Homo sapiens: one gene and its partners. The protein of the gene in region 3 interacts with the protein of the main gene of each other region in a biochemical or structural test. Each region holds a gene or a part of one and is shown on either strand. Other genes may lie near its edges.

Evidence for each region. The genes of interacting proteins can lie anywhere in the genome.
Region 1: the proteins of SENP2 (region 3) and NUP153 form a complex in vitro, tested with the Homo sapiens proteins (2 studies listed by BioGRID).
Region 2: of the proteins of SENP2 (region 3) and TRIM63, one has a biochemical effect on the other in vitro, tested with the Homo sapiens proteins (one large-scale study listed by BioGRID).
Region 4: the proteins of SENP2 (region 3) and KPNB1 form a complex in vitro, tested with the Homo sapiens proteins (one study listed by BioGRID).

The regions. Positions count from the first base shown.
Region 1 is NC_000006.12:17,617,232-17,619,925, forward strand, and holds part of NUP153 (nuclear pore complex protein Nup153), read right to left. Parts: intron 1-2,694. UniProt on the Homo sapiens protein: Component of the nuclear pore complex (NPC), a complex required for the trafficking across the nuclear envelope. Functions as a scaffolding element in the nuclear phase of the NPC essential for normal nucleocytoplasmic transport of proteins and mRNAs.
Region 2 is NC_000001.11:26,057,631-26,061,130, reverse strand, and holds part of TRIM63 (E3 ubiquitin-protein ligase TRIM63), read left to right. Parts: intron 1-769; coding exon 770-865; intron 866-2,507; coding exon 2,508-2,741; intron 2,742-3,480; coding exon 3,481-3,500. UniProt on the Homo sapiens protein: E3 ubiquitin ligase. Mediates the ubiquitination and subsequent proteasomal degradation of CKM, GMEB1 and HIBADH.
Region 3 is NC_000003.12:185,589,295-185,592,794, reverse strand, and holds part of SENP2 (sentrin-specific protease 2), read right to left. Parts: intron 2,682-3,500; coding exon 2,626-2,681; intron 1-2,625. UniProt on the Homo sapiens protein: Protease that catalyzes two essential functions in the SUMO pathway.
Region 4 is NC_000017.11:47,677,419-47,680,918, reverse strand, and holds part of KPNB1 (importin subunit beta-1), read right to left. Parts: intron 2,874-3,500; coding exon 2,730-2,873; intron 2,612-2,729; coding exon 2,506-2,611; intron 900-2,505; coding exon 785-899; intron 412-784; coding exon 250-411; intron 1-249.

The DNA.
Region 1 (2,694 bases), on a different chromosome or scaffold from region 3:
ACTTATGGTTAAAGACAGTGAAATCAACAAATACACTTAGCTCTATCTTCTTTGAAAAGTGCATTAAAACAACAAGGGATTTTTACAAAGATATAGGTTTAGAAGCTGGAAGGCTGACTAGAGTTGATACTAAACGAGCAGTAGGGAAAGAACAGAAGCAATTGCATTTACACCAAACATACCCAAAATGTTTAGGTTCCAGATACCTATGGAAGTGAGGATGTAGTGGGAATTAAAAAAAAAAAAAAAAAAAAAGGATGGCAGAGTATGTTTAGAAGCAGATACCCAGAATCAATCCCTCCCAACACCAACACAAAGATGGTAATTATCAGTGGGTGCAGTGACTCATGCGTATAATCCTAGCACTTTGGGAGGCCAAGGCAGGTGGACTGCTTGAGCCCAGGAGTTTGAGAACAACCTAGGCAACATGGCGAGATCCTATCTCTATAAAAAATTTTTCAAAATTAGCCAGGCGTAGTGGCGTGCACCTGTAATCCCAGCTACTCAGGAGGCTGAGGTGGGAAGATCTTCTGAGCCTAGGAGGTCGAGGACGCAGTGTGCCCTGACTCTGCCACTGCCTTCCAGCCTGGGAAACAGAGTGAGACCCTATCTCAGAAGGAAAAGAAAAAAAAAGAAAAAAAAGATGGTAATTCTCCTCTTCCACCGCACCAGAACAGAAGTTTAGTGTTTTAGTCTTTGTAGAAGTGTCTGGACTGGGAGACACCACATACAGTTAAGGGCAAGAATATCATTTTGAAAACAGGAATTAAGTGTAGCTCGATATTCACAAAATACCGAGCGCTCCAGCCATCTTCCCAATCTTAGCTCCCAGAACACTGGCAAATGAAGTTCTCTGATACCCTCCATGCAGGAGACTGGATGCATCTTCTTTGGGGTATCTGACAGACTAAGTGAAAAGAATGAAGGATACTAACATCCAAACTTTCCCAAGTAAAATAATGCTAGATAAACCAGATAAATCTACAATGAAATTCAAGATCTGTAAGCCCTATCAATGTAGAAAGGATTTAAGTGGTATTTACGTGTCCTACACTCATAACAACTACAGGTAGCCAAGGAGTACCAGGCATTTGAGGACAGTATTTAATAAGAAACACTGAGACAAAAATAATAAAAGCAATTTTGGGAAAACTGACTCAGCAAAGAAACAAAATTTTAAGGAGAAAAATCTGAACTCCATATCTTTAATGAATACTTCATCCACTGGAGAGTTGGGTGGGGGGGAACCCAGAGGGGCATAAAAAGGAAACATCCAGAAAATAAAAAAGAATACTTAGAAATTAAAGAAATAGTGGAAGTTAAAATCTCTCTTTTTTTTTTTTTTTTTTTTAAAGATGGAGTCTGGCTCTGTTGCCCAGGCTGGAGTGCAGTGGCACGGTCTCAGCTCACTGCAAGCTCCACCTCCCGAGTTCACGCCATTCTCCTGCCTCAGTCTCCTGAGTAGCTGGGACTACAGGCGCCCGCCACCACGCCTGGCTAATTTTTTGTATTTCTTAGTAGAGATGGGGTTTCACCGTGTTAGCCAGGATGGTCTCGATATCCTGACCTCGTGATCTGCCCGCCTTGGCCTCCCAAAGTGCTGGGATTACAGGCGTGAGCCACTGCGCCCAGCAGAAGTTAAAATCTCAACAGAATGGTAATGAAAGATAAATCTGAGAAAGTATGACACAAAGACAAAAGGTAAGAAGGAAAGGAAGGATTAGGGGACAAAATCTTCAAATAAATAATTCAGGAAAATTCCCCAAAATGGAAGTTCACAAAAGAGCATGCTGCACTCCCTACACAAACGATAAAAACAAACCCACATCAAGACACATCCTGATGTATCAGAACAATGGAGGCAAAAGAGGAGAGTCTAACAATTCCAGAAAGAAGAAACAGGCCAAAGAGCAAAGATCAAGACTTCAGGCAACTCTGGAAGCCAGAAAAGTCTACAATGGAGAAATGCTTTCAAAATTATAAAAATGATTTCCAATCTACATCTATATTCAATCAAAATCTTACCAAACATGGGGAGAGAATAAAGATCCCTGCAGAGATGTATGGCCTCAATGTTTTCCATCCCTGAACCCTCAAGAATCACTGGAAGATGTGCTGTATCAGAAAATAGGGGAGTAACAGGAAAGACATGACACCCAGGAAACGGGTTCCTCTACGAAGCTAAAAGGAATCTCCAAAAGAATGGTAAAAAGAGGTTTCCCAAGAGCACAGTTAAACAGCAAGCCAAGAAAGCCTGGTAGGAGGAACAGGTTAAAAGACCCTGTGAGAAAAGTTCTTTCAGTGCTTACTTCAGCAGCACATACCCAAAACTTGAACAAAGAAGATTAGCATGGCCCCCTGCACAAGGATGACACCCAAATTTGTGAAGTGTTCTATATTTTTAAACTAAAAACTGATGAAAGAAATTAAAGAGAACACAAACAAATGTAAAGACATCCTATATTCATGGATCAGAAGAACTATTATTGTTAAAATGGCCATACTACTCAAAGCAATCTATGGATTCAATGCAATCCCTACCAAAAATACCAATGACATTCTCCATAGAAATAGAAACATATCCGGCCAGGCGCTGTGGCTCACACCTATAATCCTAGCAGTTTGGGAGGCCGAGGCGGGCAGATCACCTGAGGTCAGGAGTTCGAGACCAGCGTGGCCAACATGGCAAAACCC
Region 2 (3,500 bases), on a different chromosome or scaffold from region 3:
CCTGCTGGGCACGGCCTGATGATTCAGGAGGCAGATTTGATCCCTGTAGATCTGCTGATCTGGCCTTTCAGGAATAGTCTCTCTGGAGGGACTTCCCAGGCCACAGGGACAGCAGCCCTGGCCTTCCTAGGGGAGGCAGCTGAGCTCATGGTTATACTTAGAGCCACTCGAGAGCACCTGGGTGTGGCCACAGGGGAGCGGTCAGACGCCCCAGCCAGGCCACTGGGGTCCTCTCAGGCCACGGCTTCTCCATCCCCCAGACACCTCTTCCTGTGCCTCTCACCTCTTCTCCAAGACTTCACATTCCCCCACAGCAGGAGGCAGCTTAGAGCCTTCTCCCTGGGTCCCTGGGCCTGTGAGGGCCCACCACCCTGTCCGTGCAGTAAGCCGTAGCCACCCCCTTTCCATACTCTCTCTTCCCTACTCCCCACTCTTCTCTAGGTCTCTCTCTTCTAGACGTCTCCAACTCTATTTCTTTTTTTGTCCCTTCTTTCTTAGAAACAAGCCCCTCCTCTGTCAGTTCCTTGCTGTGTGTTTTGGGCAGCTCACTTGCCTGCTGTTGGCCTCACCTGTAAAATAAGGGATGCAGTATCTTTCTAATATCCTCTACTCTGGAGCTGAGCTATACCCGAAAGAGGGGCCAGATCCCTACTGGAGGCTCTTTCTAGCAGAGAGGGGAGGGAGGAAGCCATGTTGCTGCCATGCCCCAGTGGGTAGGCCCTGAGGCTATTTGTGTCTCTCCTCTCCTGACCCCCACACCCCCATCTAGACTGAACTGAATAACTGTATCTCCATGCTGGTGGCGGGGAATGACCGTGTGCAGACCATCATCACTCAGCTGGAGGATTCCCGTCGAGTGACCAAGGTGAGCGGACAGAATAGTCCTGCCTGGGGATTTGGAGCTTTCCAGGGCAGCCTGGTCTCTGGGGAAGGCTCACCCATAGGTTGTGGCTAAAGGTTGGGGCCCGGAGCCTGGGGCGGTCAAGCAGGGATGGCAGGGGAGGGACTAATCCATTCATCCAGTCTCTCAACAAATGCTTCTTAAGCACAGCTGTGTGTCCGGCCCCACCCAAGATGTGGGGGATGGAGGAGTGAACCAGACAGACGTGGTCCCTGAGCTCAGGGAGTGTCCCATCAATAATTCTCAGTATTTATTCAGCACAAATTGTTTTCAGAGCACAGTTCTTCAGTGTGCTGTAGACCAACACTTCCCAAACTTTGAAGTGCGTGAAAATTACGCTGGGATCATGTTGAAATTCAGGTTTTGATTCAGTTGGTTTGGAATGAGGCATAAGAGCTGCATTTCTAGCCAGTTCCCAGGATTTGCCCAAGCTGCTGGGTCCACAGACCACATGTTGAGTAGTGAGACTGTTGAGGGCAGAAGGGAACTTTTCTATCCCTGAAAAAAGCTTCCACGATTTTCCATGTTCACTTGGGGTAGGGATCTGGAGATGAGATGAGGGGAAGGGGTCATCATAATTGCTAGTGGATGAAGAGTTGGGCGAAGGGTAGGAAGGAGGGGAACATTGTGATCACCCACGAGAGGCTCCCGGTCTGATGAGATGCTATTGTCACACCCATTTTATAGAAAAGAACATAGAGAGAAGGGAGCTTCGGTTGAGGAGGGTGCTAGGAAAGGAGCTGTTTTTCCACCTCTCCTAGGACCAAATGATGCAGAGCTTCCCGAATCCAGTCTTGGTCCTGAAAGGGAGGGAAGAGTGTGAACTGGGACATATGGGAGGCCCAGGAAACGTTAATTTGTTGAAGGTCACACAGCTAAAAGGGAAACACAGCTAAAAGGCAACAGAGAGCTGGGCACAGTGGCTCATGCCTATAATCCCAGCACTTTGGGAGGTCAAGCTGGGTGGATCATGAGGTCAGGAGATCGAGACCATCCTGGCCAACATGGTGAAACCCCATCTCTACTAAAAATACAAAAAAATAGCCAGGCGTGGTAGCGTATCTATAATCCCAGCTACTCGGGAGGCTGAGGCAGGAGAATCGCTTGAACCTGGGAGGTGGAGGTTGCAGTGAGCCAAGATCGCACCACTGCACTCCAGCGGGGGCAACAGAGCGAGACTCCATCTCAAAAAAAAAAAAAAAAAAAGGGCAACAGAGAAAGACAGGGCAGATCCCACATTGGGTGACTGTTGCATTGGTCTAAGAGGTGATGCTCCAATGACCAGCTGAGGTTGGGGGACAGGGGGAGGGTGCAGGAACAAGGAAGAACATGTTGTGTCATGTGACCCTAGAGCCTCTATTTTGGAAGAAGGGGCTAGCTGTTTTTCAAGGCATCATCCTCCAAATATCACTGGCGTACTAAATAGCTGTGAGGCCAGATGAGTGTTTTCTTCTTGTTAAGTCTTTGTTTCTTCTTCTGTAGTGTGGGGATGTATGTAGTGAGATCTCTTCTAGCTTTAGATTCCTTGCTACTGTCCTAGGAAGGCAGTGTAGTGGGCAGGGAATAAAGACCCTACAGAACGTGACCACAAGACTTCCGTCCTCAGGAGAACAGTCACCAGGTAAAGGAAGAGCTGAGCCAGAAGTTTGACACGTTGTATGCCATCCTGGATGAGAAGAAAAGTGAGTTGCTGCAGCGGATCACGCAGGAGCAGGAGAAAAAGCTTAGCTTCATCGAGGCCCTCATCCAGCAGTACCAGGAGCAGCTGGACAAGTCCACAAAGCTGGTGGAAACTGCCATCCAGTCCCTGGACGAGCCTGGGGGAGCCACCTTCCTCTTGGTGAGCAGGACTAGAAGGGTCTGGGTGGGGTCAGTTCAACTCTACAGCTCTAAGGTTCAAGTTATGCTTCCCCACTGACCACCCATGGGCCCTTGGAAAAGCCATTTAAACCTCTGTGAGCCTCAGTTTCCTCATCTGTCAAATGGGCATGTAACACCCCCCACCTTCCTCTTACTGATTTTATGATGATAAGATAAGAGGATGTTTATGAAATGACTTTGTAAGCTGCAAAATACAGTGTCCCATCTACAGACTATTAATTGAGCCCCTACTGTAGGCCAGGCACTGAGGTGGAAGACAAGGAGATAAACCAGACACAGCCCTGCCCTCAAAGAGCTTGTTGGGGAGGACAGAAAAGGCTCAGTTATAAGACTTCATAGTTCAGTTCAATAAAAATGTTCTAGGCTTCTACTGTGGGCCAGGCTTTTTGCTAGACATTAGGTATGAAAAGGTGGTTAGGATTGGGGAGTTCAGGGTTTAGGAGTTTTGGGATTGATACCCCTAGAATCCAAGCTTCCTGTCAAGACAGTGGGTCCTAGGGTGATGACCAAGACCTGTACAGACCACAGACAGAGGGAAAAGTTCCAGATTCTGCTCAGTTTGGGGTGGGGAGCAGGTCACAACTGGGCTAGGGAATGGCACCAAATATCTACCTACAACACCTAGTTCACTAGTTTTGCTGATTTCCTGCGGTTACCTCTTCTGCGGTCCTAATCCTTTGTTCTCTCTCCCCCTGCAGACTGCCAAGCAACTCATCAA
Region 3 (3,500 bases):
AAATACAAAAATTAGCCGGGTGTGGTGGTGGGCACCTGTAGTCCCAGCTACTTGGGAAGCTGAGGCAGGGGAATCACTTGAACCTGGGAGGCGGAGGTTGCAGTGGGCCGAGAATGTGCCATTGCACTCCAGCCTGAGCAACAGAGCAAGACTCCATCTCAAAAAAAAAAAAAAAGGAGACCCTGTCTTACTAATTTTTGTATTTTCTGTAAAACCTAACACATTGGTTAGCACTGAGACATGCTCAATAAGTACTCACTGAATTTAAACGAAATATTAACACAAATATGTCCACACTCAATTACCACATCTGGAGGTAGACCCAAATTTATAATCATTTTTGAGAAAGAGGAATATATTATTATAGCATTTTACTATGCCTTTTTCCTTTAATCTACTTTTATTTTCTTTATCCATTCAGATATACTGAAGTAAAAGACTTGGCTGGGCACAGTGGCTCATATCCATAATCCCGGCACTTTGGAAGGGCAGGAGTTCCAAGATCAGCCTGGGCAACATATGGAGACTCAGTATCCACATACAAAATAATTTGCCAGGTGTGGTGGTATGGGCCTATAGTCCCAGCTACTCAGGAGACTGAGGCAGGAGGATTGTGTGAGCCCAGGAGTTTGAGACTGCAGTGAGCTACGATCGTGCCACTGCACTGAAGCCTGGGCAACACAGTGATACCCTTGCCTCTTACAAAATTAAAAAAAAAAATTGTTGATGACAAGATCAAGACAGAGCAAGATCCTGTCTCAAAAAAAAAAAAAAAAAAAAAAAGAAATATTACCGGTTCTTAAAGACAGGAGTATTCTTTCAAAATGCCACTGCTGCCTATTTTCAGCCTGGACAATGTGGCAAGACCCTGTTTCTACAAAAAAAATACAAAAATCAGCTAGGTGTGATAACGTGCCTGTAGGCCCAACCAACTACTTGGGAGGCTGAGATGGAAGGATCACCTGGGCCCAGGGAGGTGGAGGCTGCAGTGAGCCATGATTATGCCACTGCATCCCAGCCTGGGTGACAGAATGAGACCCTGTCTCGAAAAAAAAAAATAGAAAAGATGGGTTCCCTCAGCCATCTGAACTAGAGTCACCTCAGTTTGAAACATTTACAACATTTCCTCCTTAAAAATAAGTAGGGCCAGGCGCGGGGGCTCACGCCTGTAATCCCAGCACTTTGGGAGGCTGAGGCAGGTGGATCACGAAGTCAGGAGACTGAGACTATCCTGGCTAACATGGTGAAACCCCGTCTCTACTAAAAATACAAAAAATTAGCCGGGCATGATGGCGGGCGCCTGTAGTCCCAGCTACTCAGGAGGCTGAGGCAGGAGAATGGTGTGAACCCGGGAGGTGGAGGTTGCAGTGAGTCGAGATTGCACCACTACACTCCAGCCTGGGTGACAGAGCGAGACTCCATCTCAAAAAATAAATAAATAAGAAGTATCTTTTCTTTGTAGAATGATTTAGAATTTTAAAATGCACAGTCTACACCTAGGCTTATTTACCTGCAAGGATTAGACAAGTCCCTGGTAACAGTAGTTACCTCTAGAAAAGATAAGAAAGGGATAGGAAAGAGACTTTCTTGGGTTGGGTGCGGTGGCTCACGCCTGTAACCCCAGCACTTTGGGAGGCCGAGGCGGGCAGATCACGAGGTCAGGAGATGGAGACCATCCTGGCTAACACGGTGAAACCCCATCTCTACTAAAAATACAAAAAAACTAGCCAGGTGTGGTGGTGGGTGCCTGTAATCCCAGCTACTCGGGAGGCTGAGGCAGGAGAATGGCGTGAACCTGGGAGGCAGAGCTTGCAGTGAGCCGAGATTGCGCCACTGCACTCCAGCCTGCGACAGAGCAAGACTCTGTCTCAAAAAAAAAAAAAAAAAAAAAAAGGAGACTTTCTTTTTTTTTTTTTTTTTTTTTTTTGAGATGGAGTGTCGCTCTGTCGCCCAGGCTGGAGTGCAGAGTGCAGTAGCAGATTCTTGGCTCACTGCAACCTCCGCCTCCCAGGTTCACGCGATTCTCGTGCCTCAGCCTCCCGAGTAGCTGTGACTATAGGCGTGCACCACTTGGCTAATTTTTTAATGTTTAGTAGAGATGGGGTTTCACCATGTTGGCCAGGCTGGTCTCAAACTCCTGACCTCAAGTGATCCTCCCACCTCAGCCTCTGAAGTGCTGGAATTAAAGGTTTGAGCCACCACGTCGGGCCAGGAAAGAGACTTAAGTTTTTTTGTTTTTTTTTTTCCTGACACAGTCCTGCTCTGTCGCCCCAGGCTGAAGTGCAATGGCACCATCTTGGCTCACAGCAACCTCCACCTCCCAGGTTCAAGCGATTCTCCTGCCTCAGCCTCCCGAGTAGCTGGGATTACAAGCTCCTGCCACCACAGCAAGCTAATTTTTGTATTTTTAGTAGAGACAGGGTTTTGCCATGTTGGCCAGGCTGGTCTCAAACTCCTGACCTCAGGTGATCCGCCTGCCTTGGCCTCCCAAAGTGCTAGGATTACAGCCACTGCGCCCGGCCAAGACTTACTTTTTACCAGATACTTTTTACCTTTTGAATTTTGTTCCATGCATATATTTTTCCTATTTAAAAACTAAAAATTTTTAAAATTTATATTCAGTACCTAATCTTGGTCTTTTGGCTGGTATTTCATCAGTGTCCACTGTAGAAAACAGAGTGCTGAAAAAGAGAAAGAAAAAAATATATATATATAGATTTACACACACATTCATTTCTGTAAGTAAACTTACTATTCATATAACACATCCCCCTTCTATCACTTTGTCATAAAATGAGATCCAACTGATGTTTTAAAAGAGAATGCTGGTGGGACACAGTGGCTCGTGCCTGTAATCCCAGCACTTTGGGAGGCCAAGGGGGAGGATCGCTTGAGCCTTGGAGTTTGACATCAGCCTGGGCAACAAAGTAAGACCTCATCTCTACGATAAAAAAATAAATAAAAAATTAGCCAGCCTTGGTGGTAAGTGAGTGTGGTCCCAGCTACACTAAGGCAGGAGGATCACTTGAGCCCAGGAAGTAAGGCTGCAGTGAGCCCAGGTCATGCCACTGCACTCCAGCCTAATCAAAAGAGTGAGACCTTGTTTTAAAAAGAAATAAAACTAAAAATAAAAGCAAAACAAAAGAGAGAATGCTATTCTATAGTAGGCTTTTCACATGCGAAGACTTACTGCTACAGTTTCAACTATTTGAGAGAGAAACAAACTTCTTACCAAATAATAATTTGCCATCTGGTTAAAGTACAAACTTAAAACTGGCCAAAGTCACTTAGCTAGTAAATGAACCCAGGTAAGAGTTTAGGACAGTATTTTCTCTTTCGCTCCAGAAATGATTTAAAAACAACAAACAAGCAATTTCCTTTTGAAAATGATCCCCAAAGAAAGCCATCTTTTACTTTAGGTGACAGTATTAATATGAACAGCCTTAAAAGACAATTCTTTTTTACTGTTTTTTCTTTTGTGTGTGTGTAAGGGAGTTAAA
Region 4 (3,500 bases), on a different chromosome or scaffold from region 3:
ATTAGGACCCAAAATACTCAGGGAATTTCAGTGAATTCCAGTTTTAAAAGTTCTGCTCTCCATCACTATGAGGAGTCAAACATTTGGCTCAAGGAAAAACTGAGGCTGCCTGACTCAGAAGCACCTACATGGGAAAAAGTACAAACAAAAAAAATGCCAGAAGGCAGTGCTTGCCAGAATGGCCTAAAGAAAACATACCCCCCTCCTCCAGGAAGTAGAAGAAAGAGGACAGTGGAGGCAAGATCTTACCAAGCTTGGTTCTTCAGTTTCCTCAGTTCTTTTGTTGCCCATGTAGCAAGGGTTTTTGCTTTGTTAGTCTTCGATCTCCGCCCTTCAGTTAACAATTCATGGATCATTGGCCTAGCTTCTACTAATTTCAGTACATCCTTCCCAAATGCTGTACATAAGTCCCTGTGCAAAACAAACACAGCTGAGAATGAGCTCCTAGCCCCATACCAGTATAATGTTTTGAGCCTTCCAAACCAGTGCTATGGGTTTCTTAGCAAATTTCAAAGATAAATAAAACCCTCAGTAGAGGTCACTAGACAGAGGCAATTGTTGACCAACATCAGAGTTTAATGGGGTGTAATACAGACACCTTGAGGGTCTGGAATAAACTATCATGTGAACACTCAAAACAGGACATGAAGCGTTCTGCAAAGAAATCTCTGTGCCAAAAAAGTGAACTGTTGCCATCCGCGATACTCTCAAAACTCCTTACTCCATGTTTTCTCATTTTCTGTGAGAAGTTCTATTCAGCTCTTAGAAGCAGGGTATAACTTACCCTATTAGTCCAGCAGCACAAGCTACTACTCCATCTGTGTGATCCTCATCTCCAGCAATGTGGTCAATGAAAGACAGAATAAATTCTACTCTGGGTTGTACCAGCATCACATCCGCTATAAAAGAGAGAGAAGGTATTGGTCGGGTGCGGTGGCTCATGCCTGTAAACCCAGCACTTTAGGAGGCCCAGGCGGGTGGATCACAAGGTCAGAAGATCGAGACCATCCTGGCTAACTCGGTGAAACCCCGTCTCTACTAAAAATACAAAAAAATTAGCCGGGCGTGGTGGCGGGCGCCTGTAGTCCCAGCTACTCAGGAGGCTGAGGTAGGAAAATGGCGTGAACCCAGGAGGCGGAGCTTGCAGTGAGCCGAGATTGCGCCACTGCGCTCCAGCCTAGGCGACAGAGCAAGATTCCATCTCAAAAAAAAAAGAAAAAAAAAAGAGAGAGAAGGTCTGATGCAGCTGTCCCTCATATGGCAGGACTACATCCTTTTTCAAAATTTCCAACTATTATACCCCTATCATACAAGGTCCAAGCTGGATAACTAGATGCATATAGTTATATCAAATTATTCTTCCTTTGATTAATGTGTCGTTCCTCAAGTCGACAGAAGAGACAAATATTCCTCTTCCTATAGGCAAATATAGAAGAAACAAATTTAACTTTTTCCTGAGCTAATGATACCAAGGGGGGTGAAGTAAAAAATTTCCCCAATCAGCAACAAGAACACGTAACGGGAATTATGACTCCCCAGTCCTCCAATTTAGCTTGTGGGGATGGGAAAGGGGTAGGGGACCTGCCACTCATGGTTGATACAGGAAGCATTTATGTTGGGTTTCTTCCCCCCAACATTTTTGCTGAATCCCATCCCTTGTAATACTCAAGAAATATGAGAAAAAGAAGCAGAGGGCTGGGTGCAGTGGCTCACGCCTGAAATCCCATCACTTTGGGAGCCCAAGGTGGGAGATTGCCTGAGCTCAGGAGTTCGAGAGCAGCCTGCAAAACATGGTGAAATCCCATCTCTACTAAAATACAAAAAAAAAAAAAATAGCTGGGCATGGTGGTGTGTGCCTGTAGTCCCAGCTACTCAGGAAGCTGAGGCATAAGAATCACTTGAACCCAGGAAGTGAAGACTGCAGTGAGCTGTGATCGCTCCACTGCACTCCAGCTTGGGTGAGAGTGAGACTGTCTCCAAAAAATAAAAATAAAATAAAATAAATTTAAAAGGCTGGGCACAGTGGCTCAAGCCTGTAATCCCAGCACTTTGGGAGACCAAGGCGGGTGGATCAATTGAGATCAGGAGTTCAAGACCAGCCTGACCAACAAGGTGAAAGCTTGCCTCTACTAAAAATATAAAAATTAGCCAGGCATAGTGGCAGATGTGTATAGTTCCAGCTACTCAGGAGGCTGAGGCAGGAGAACTGCTTGAACCTGGGAGGTGGAGGTTGCAGTGAGCCGAGATTGCACGACTGCACTCCAGCCTGGGCAACAGAGTGAGACTCCGTCTCAAAACAAAAAAAAGAAAGAAGAAGCAGAGCAAAAACAGTAGTCTACAGTTTTCCCCAAGCCACTCTCTTCATTAGGGCACTGCTCCCCCTTCTCCCAGCCTTTTAAGCAACAGGCACTAGGTTCACAAGCGAGCTACAGAATGACAGACATAGCCCACTTGGCTAAGTGCACATTGGCGAGCGGACGAAGGGAACTGGGTTGTATACTCAACGGTGTACGTTCTCCTGATCCCCCTTTAATCCCTGGACGATTCCAGTATAGGCTTCCAAGCAGCTTTCCCTTAGCTCATTCAGATAATCCACCATGTCATAGTCTGACTGTAAGACACAAAGAACAGAACCTACATCACACTGATCACTTTTAGCTGCATGTTTGTCAATAGTCCCTCCAATTAGAGCTAGACTTAAAGAACAGCCAAGATAGCTTTAAGCTTACCTTGTCCACCTGGGCTTGGGAGGCCTGCTGAAGAGTATTCAATACAACCTCTAAGTATTTTTTAAACTCTCCTCCAATAGCAAGGGCAATATCACCAAACACTGACAGAATCTGCGGCTTCACAGACCTGTGGACGTTCTCATTCTGACAAGGAACAAAAGGAAAAGTGAATTAAGTCAAAACTTGTTTGGTCCAAAGATTCATGAAAATTTCATTTCTAACAAGCAACTATTGATTTTAAATATTTGGATGGTCCTTTATAGCTTACAAAACCTTTCCCATTTGCACCTCACACCAACTCTAAGAAGCTAGCCCAGGTATTGGTATTCCCACTTTACACATGAGGAGACTGACTTAAGAATCAAGTGACTTGTCTGAGAACACACATGTACAATAATTAATGATGGCTATCTCTGGAGAGAGGTATAATATACAAATGGTCCCCTGCTCATGATGGTTTGATGATTTCTCCACTTTACAATGTGTTTATTGGGACCTAACTCCATCATAAGTCAAGGAACAACTGTATTTACTTTTCCTTTGCATTTTACTGTTTTGTTTTAAAAATCTCTAATAGAGCACACATTCCTTTAACTTTACAATCTTTCTTCAGAGTCATCTGTGAAATGAACAACTCCCCTCTTTATAAGCCCAAAGCCAATGTTCTAGAAACTTACAGCTCCCTGTCACTGATTTTTTTTTTTTTTTTTTTTTTTTGAGACGGAGTTTGGCTCTTCTTGCCCAGGCTGGAGTGCAATGGCGTGATCTTGG